Linked DNA regions of Homo sapiens. The protein of the gene in region 1 interacts with the protein of each later gene in a pairwise test. Each region holds a gene or a part of one and is shown on either strand. Other genes may lie near its edges. The genes, in order: OARD1 and RAPGEF3.

What was found.
Region 2: the proteins of OARD1 (region 1) and RAPGEF3 interact in a two-hybrid assay, tested with the Homo sapiens proteins (one large-scale study listed by BioGRID).

The regions. Positions count from the first base shown.
Region 1 is NC_000006.12:41,066,493-41,069,358, reverse strand, and holds part of OARD1 (ADP-ribose glycohydrolase OARD1), read left to right. Parts: intron 1-405; coding exon 406-518; intron 519-1,921; coding exon 1,922-2,024; 3' UTR 2,025-2,866. UniProt on the Homo sapiens protein: ADP-ribose glycohydrolase that hydrolyzes ADP-ribose and acts on different substrates, such as proteins ADP-ribosylated on glutamate and O-acetyl-ADP-D-ribose.
Region 2 is NC_000012.12:47,741,758-47,745,581, forward strand, and holds part of RAPGEF3 (rap guanine nucleotide exchange factor 3), read right to left. Parts: intron 2,312-3,824; coding exon 2,230-2,311; intron 1,920-2,229; coding exon 1,773-1,919; intron 1-1,772. UniProt on the Homo sapiens protein: Guanine nucleotide exchange factor (GEF) for RAP1A and RAP2A small GTPases that is activated by binding cAMP.

The DNA.
Region 1 (2,866 bases):
ACAGTTTCTAAATAAGTAGAGGCTTTTAGCAGGGAATTTTCAGGTGGTATGCTTTCTTCCCTGTTAGAGATATGCAGCTTATCTCTTGGAAGTGGCACAGAGACTTCACCTACCTTGCTTAAAAATATTGACAATAGGCATCATCTGCTAATCTCATGGGTTTCCTAGGAAAAGGAAAGATTGCTACGTGGCAGAGTCTGGGTTTCTCAGCCTCTATTTAGTGGATTTTCTTGAAGGTCTCCCATAACAGTGTGGAAAGGGCAATATGACATTTGTCATCCTTGCTCTAGACTAATTCTATAAAAATGTGCTTACTCTTTTAATTATTGGGATGTTGGGGGAATGTGATGACTTTTCTTTGGCTATCATTTTGGGATGATGAAAGTTTGAATCCTTTGTGTTCAGATTACAAAGAAAAGGGCTTCGCACAAGCCAACTTATGAAAACTTACAGAAGAGTTTAGAGGCAATGAAGTCTCATTGTCTGAAGAATGGAGTCACTGACCTCTCCATGCCCAGGCAAGGAAATCCATGGTCCTAAATGGAGATTTAATTGATTGGTGGGGTTTACTATCTTACCCAAAGACAAACAACTTAAAAGCTTAACCCAAAATATAGATTTAAAGGTGGACAAAAGTCAAAATTTTGTAAAACCACCAGTGAACCAGTTGTCTGGCTTTAGACTAAGGCACAGCCATTTTCTAGCTTGAGTTGAATGAATCAGGACAATTACCTTGAAATATACATCTGCCTCAGCCTGCTTAGCAGAGAGCGACCATTGTCATTCAGCTACATTTGTTGAATTCTCAGCACCCTCTGCTTGAAGCTTGGCCTTTATTCCTAAAGCAATGTAAGCTAAAGAATCAAGACTGAGCAATGGTGGTTTTCCTCTTGGACCACTTCCCATCTCCCAAACCTATTACTTTGCGTCAAGAAAGTTGTAAATTATCATTCCCTTTTATACTGCACACTTGTTTTGGTCAGTATGGGTAATAGCCAGAGGATCTGTCCCTGATGTAACTTCTTAGACTTTAGCTATTGGGAATTTAGGGAATGACATTGAGGGTTCAGTAGTCCCTTTGCTTTCTTTTCAGGAAATGGGCCTCACCTCTTTTCTTCCTGTCACCCTGGTAGTTTTGAGTCAATGCTGAGCATACATGCAGTTTTATCTTGCGCCCCACATTACTTTGCATATGGCCTCAAATGTCCCTTATTTTACACTGGTCTTTGATATATTTATGGTGTACATACATATCAGAAACTTTTTTTTTAATCACAATTCCTTATGGACTTAATTATCACATTATGACATGAAATTACCAATTTTAGGTCTCTTTTTTCCCTAGGCGTGTTGAGGATCACTAGAGTAACATCTTGGAAGGTGCCAAGTAGTAGAGTTTTATGGACTGAGTTTATTCTTACCAGGGTGTTGCAAAGACCTTACTCCTGGATTGCAACTATCTTACCATTTCCCAGCATTCCCTCTTGACTTTCTTTTTTGCAGATCCTGTACCTCATTCCTCTTCTCCTTACTTTCGTTAACATTCTGTTACCATAAGTGCATTTTTAAAATACCAACCTTTCACCATCCATCCACAGCCAATTTTAGTCAGTAGTCATAGAGGGATAATGAGTCTCTAATGTCATGACAGTTACACATTTCTAAATGTAGCATGAAATAGTTGGAAAGTAGTATCTTATTAGGCAAACAGAAGTGATAGTTTTTGGATGTTAGAGCTGTCTAGGAATGGTCTTCGGTGACTCACAACAAGAATTGACTTCCAAACTCCTACCATGGTTGCCCATAAGGGTGTCAGACTAGATTATTTGTTTTTATGCTTTGAGTGGATATAGCTTAAAAGAGAGGAGCAGTTTCCTAGATACTTTCGTTACCATCAATGGAGATATTTTGTCTTTTTCAGGATTGGATGTGGTCTTGATCGTCTGCAATGGGAAAATGTATCTGCGATGATCGAGGAGGTATTTGAGGCAACAGACATCAAAATTACTGTGTACACACTCTGAACCAGTGAACATTTTGGATGTTTCCGTGTTCTCCTGTGTCATCTCTACTGGGCCATAGGACCGGGCAAACCTACCTTAAAATAGGCAGAGGAAAGTTTCATGAGAAGTAGTGTGTTTAACAAGACAGACTTTGGTTGCTGTATTCAAGTATTTGGATTATGACTGTGGAGGAGGGCTTGCTTAAGATATGTGGTTGTGTTTTTTTGTGGAAAAGTAAGGAGTTAGGTGGCTTGATAATAGGCAGGGAAACCAGATTGTCGGGACTATGACCTTTTTCTCCAGTATGCTACCTGATTTGTTTGGCTGGCCACTAGGTGGCAGCATTGGTTCTACTTCTCTGCTTTTTAAGAGAAATTTCAGGAAGGATGATCATTCCAGTTAGTTTGGCATTTTTTGTCGTTTGTGCACATAACTTGGTGTTATCCTTATGTCATCAGATTCCTCCTAGGGGAGAGTTTTTGTTTTAATTACAAAATTAAATTCTACATTGTTACCAAGAAATTTGTGGTGATAAAAATGGAAAAATAAAAATTTGGGGAGTTAGTGAGGTTCTGTGCTTATGTCTATTTGTTCTGGACATGGGTAATGGAGGGTTCACCTGCAACTTAATTTCAAACAGTCAGACAAAGGGTCCAAGCGGGAGGAGAAGCAAAGTGAGAAATAAGAGATAAAAATAGACAAGTCAAAAGGCAGGTTTTTAGAATCTCCTCATGGTGAACTTTTTCTCTCTTTTGTCCACTGCATGGTTTCTGTGATTGAACCTGCCTGAATTTAATCATGAAAACAAGTGAAATAATGTATGTTAAATGCCTGGCAGAGTACTTAGCACAGACTAGTGACCC
Region 2 (3,824 bases), on another chromosome or scaffold:
TGTGCCCACGCAGCCACGCAGCCCAGGGAAGCACATCCAAGAGGATGAGGAAAGATTCTCAGTGAGTCAGGAAGAACCTGGGCAGGGTCTGAGCCTCCCTCAGCCTCACTTTCTTCCCTGGTAAAATGGAGACAATAAGACTTGCCCCAACTATTTCATAAGTCAAATAAAATAATGTATATAAATAGTAGCTATAAGTACATGCTATGTATAAAAGCCCTTTGAAAATTGGGAAGTGTCTTATATAAGCCTTGGTGTTGATTTTCATCAGCTCCTCATGGACTGGGACTGTGCTTGAGTCCCCAGTCCCTAGAGCAGTGGCCTCCAAAGTAAGGTACATCAGATCATCCATGTGCCTGGGGAAAATATGAGCTCTTCTACTTACGTTTACTTTTTCTACCTGCTTTGCATTTCTACTCCATCAATTTCTATTTTATCTATCTTTATTATGATATTAATGTAGTAATATATGTGTATTACTTACAAACAAATATTCACACAGTGGGGTGTGGGTTTTAATTAAATGTTGGTTATTGACATGGGTGTCGATCCAAGTGCTTCGGAGATCAGTGCTCTAAACAGTGCCTGGCACATAGTAGGGTCTCAATAAACATGACCTTTGGGCAACTGCAACTCACCAGGTGGCCAGCAGAGGGCAGTGCTTCCCAGGGCAGGGCACACAGGTGACCATCTCTCCCCACTTCCTGAAGGGAGAAGGCTTTTCTTTTCTCATCCCCACTTCTTGAACGCCCCTAATTCTTGTCTGCCCTGGGTTCCAGCTGTCAAGCCCGTGCCCTCCGCAGAGAACAGTGGTTTTGAATGTTCCAGGTTCTCTGGAGGCCCATCTTAATACTCCTGAGCCCGCCATGTTCTCAGCACTGACTGGCAGGCCCTGTGCTAAGTGCTTTACACACATTAGCTCACTTAGCCATTGCAACCCTGTGGGTAGATACAATTACAGTCCTCATCTGACAGGTGAGGAAATGCAGGCTCAGAGAGGTTAAGCAACTTGCCCAGCATCACACAGCTAGTAAATGGTGAGCCTAAGATGCCTTCACGGGTCTGGGAGTCCACCGTCTATGCTCTTAACCATCAAGCTGACCTGTTTTACCTGCTGTGGTATCTCCAGCTCCTAACATATTGCTGGCTCATAGCTGATCCTCAAAAATGTTTGCTGAGTGACTAAACAAATGAAGACTACTTAAGTTCCAAGACCAGCTACTCTCACTGTGTGAGCTTGAGGAATAGCTCATGCCCTTTGAGCTTCAGTGTTCTTGTCTGAAAATAGGATAAAAGTACCTGTATCTCATGAGATTGTTATTAATTCATATTAAATGACTAAACACAAATGATGATAATAATAGCAGCTAATACTTATGTATCACTATGTGCCGGGCACCATTCTAAATGCTTTCATAGATGAACTCAATTGATCCTCACAATTCCTCCAGGAGGCAAGTACTCCTACTATTCCCATTTTATGGATGATAAAACTGAGCACAGAGGGATGAAGTACCCTGCCAGAGGACACACAGATGGTGAGCTAAAGGGCTGGTGCCGAATGCAAGCAGCAGGCTCCAGAGCTCATGCTCTTACACACTGCATGAAATGCACTTCGAACAGACGCACTCCACCTCCCATTAATGCTAGCCATCATTCACACTGAGGAAGACCAGAAAGATGACAATGATGACAATGATCTTGACTGGGGGACCTGGGCGCAGATCCGAGGGGCCACCCTCCCTTGGGGTCTATCCAGGGGCACAACTCACCACCTGCAGAATTGACCTTCACCAGCACCTGCCCCTTGGTCCAGCCATCCTCCTGGGCCAACGCTGCCATCACCTCTCTCACGGAGGCTGTCACAGGCAGCTGCAGGGTCAACACTGAGTGGTCTGGCCGGCAGATGTCATAGGGGACTGAAGAGGAGACCAGACTGAGCTGTGGGAAGGGCTGCCTGATCTCCACCCCAGGAGGGAGAGGGCGGCTATTGCAGTAATGGTGGGAGGGATCCCCAAGAGGCTGAGCTGCAGGTGGGGAGGCCCTGAGCAAAAAAGAGGCAGGTAGGAGGCAGATCTAGCCAGCAGCCTGGAACACAGACCCTGAGGAGTACAGCGTGCCACCTTGGCCCAGGCACACCGAGGTCAAGAGTGACGACAGCAGGACAAGAGAGGCAGAGACAGCAGGGTGCAGATGTCGGGCTGTGCCCAGCCGGCACAGACCACCAACCTTTATCCCCAACTTGGATGGCACAGCTGCTGCCAGGAAGGGGCTCGTCCTGGTTGGGGAGCCAAACAGGCAAGTTCCGGGCCTGGGAGGAAGAGGAACGAGAAAATAAGGCTGGGAGGACATGAGAGGAGACCGTGGAGGGAGGGATTGTGAGGTCCCTGTGTCACCAGGAGCACGGGCGCCACACAGCATTCACACCACCAGAGGGCTCTGCTTGCCACATTCACCTGAGCTCAGGTAAGGCACCTGGGACCAAGGATCCAGGAGAAGACACAACATGTCTAAGGGCGGGGCAAATCCATGCCCCTCCGTGTGTGTGTGCTTCTGCATCTGCCAGATAGGTCCAGAGCAGTTCTAATATGAAAATCCTTCAGCTGCTGACTTTGGTTTTCTCTTCCTTTTCCTCCAGCTACCATTTGCTACAAGCCAGGCATTATTCTGAGGATCTAAATATTCACAATGCGCCTTTGACAAAAGTATTATTTTTATTTCCATTTTATGGATGAAATAAATGAGGCTCAGAGAGGTTAAGTAACATGCCCAAAGCCACACAGCTGCTAACTGGCAGAGTTGGAATCCCTCCTGCTCCTTTCCCCCTCTGTGCTCCGATACTGTGTCAGTGGCCCTGTCCCAGCCCACAGCAGGGATGCAGTTCATGGAAACCACTGTCAGGCCTCTGCTGGCAGGGCAGCGCCTGCCAGGCAAGTCTCCTGACTCAGGTTCCCCTTCCCACCCTGCTTTTTTCCGACTCTGGTACTGACTCTGTCCCTCCTCCCAGCTCTGCGTATAGCAGATCCTCCAGGTTCGGACCTCAATCCATTGCTCTTCCCTACATTTCCAAATCTCAGGGACCCCTGCAGAGTTCCTTACTGCCTCATGTGTCGCCTGCACATGGGTGATTCCCAAAACTACCAGCAGTGCTGAACTCTCTTCCAAACCCTGGTCTCAAAAACCCCCTGCATCCTTCCACATGAATGATCCATTACCTCACACTCCATATACCCATCGGATCCTTGCATCCTGCCTCCCAGACCACTCTGTTCCCCAGCCATTCTCCCCAGCTCCAGGCTCCTCCACACTTCCGTAGCTTGTCATCTTGCTTTGAAGATTCTTCTTTGAAGTGGGTCTTCTGTGCCCCCTCCTCCCCTGCCCAGGCTAACTCCAGTTCCACCTGCCCACGAGGCCTCACTCCTTATCTACTCCAATGGCCCAACTATGCTCCTCCTCCTCCCTCCCAGGTGCCTCCAGCCCTCCTCCTCCAATCTGCCTGACCAGAGCCCTGTGAAGCTCCCGCACTCGACTTCAGTGGCGTCCATTGTCTGCTGGAGAAAGCCCAGGCTCTTTAGCTGACCTATTCAAAACACAAATCAGACTTTGCCAACCTTGGCTCAAACCCCTTTAATGGTTTGCACTGCTCTTAGGACAAAGATCAGACCCCTGTCCTTGGCCCAGGGGGCCCTGCCCACCTCCTGCCTGCTCTGGGGTCCTACTCTTACTCTCGCTCCTCCAGGGATCCTCCTCCTGGGTTCCCTTTCCTCCTGGGTTTGCCCACCAGGAATCCTCTTCTTCCTCCACCCTTGCCCCCTGCAGCTCTC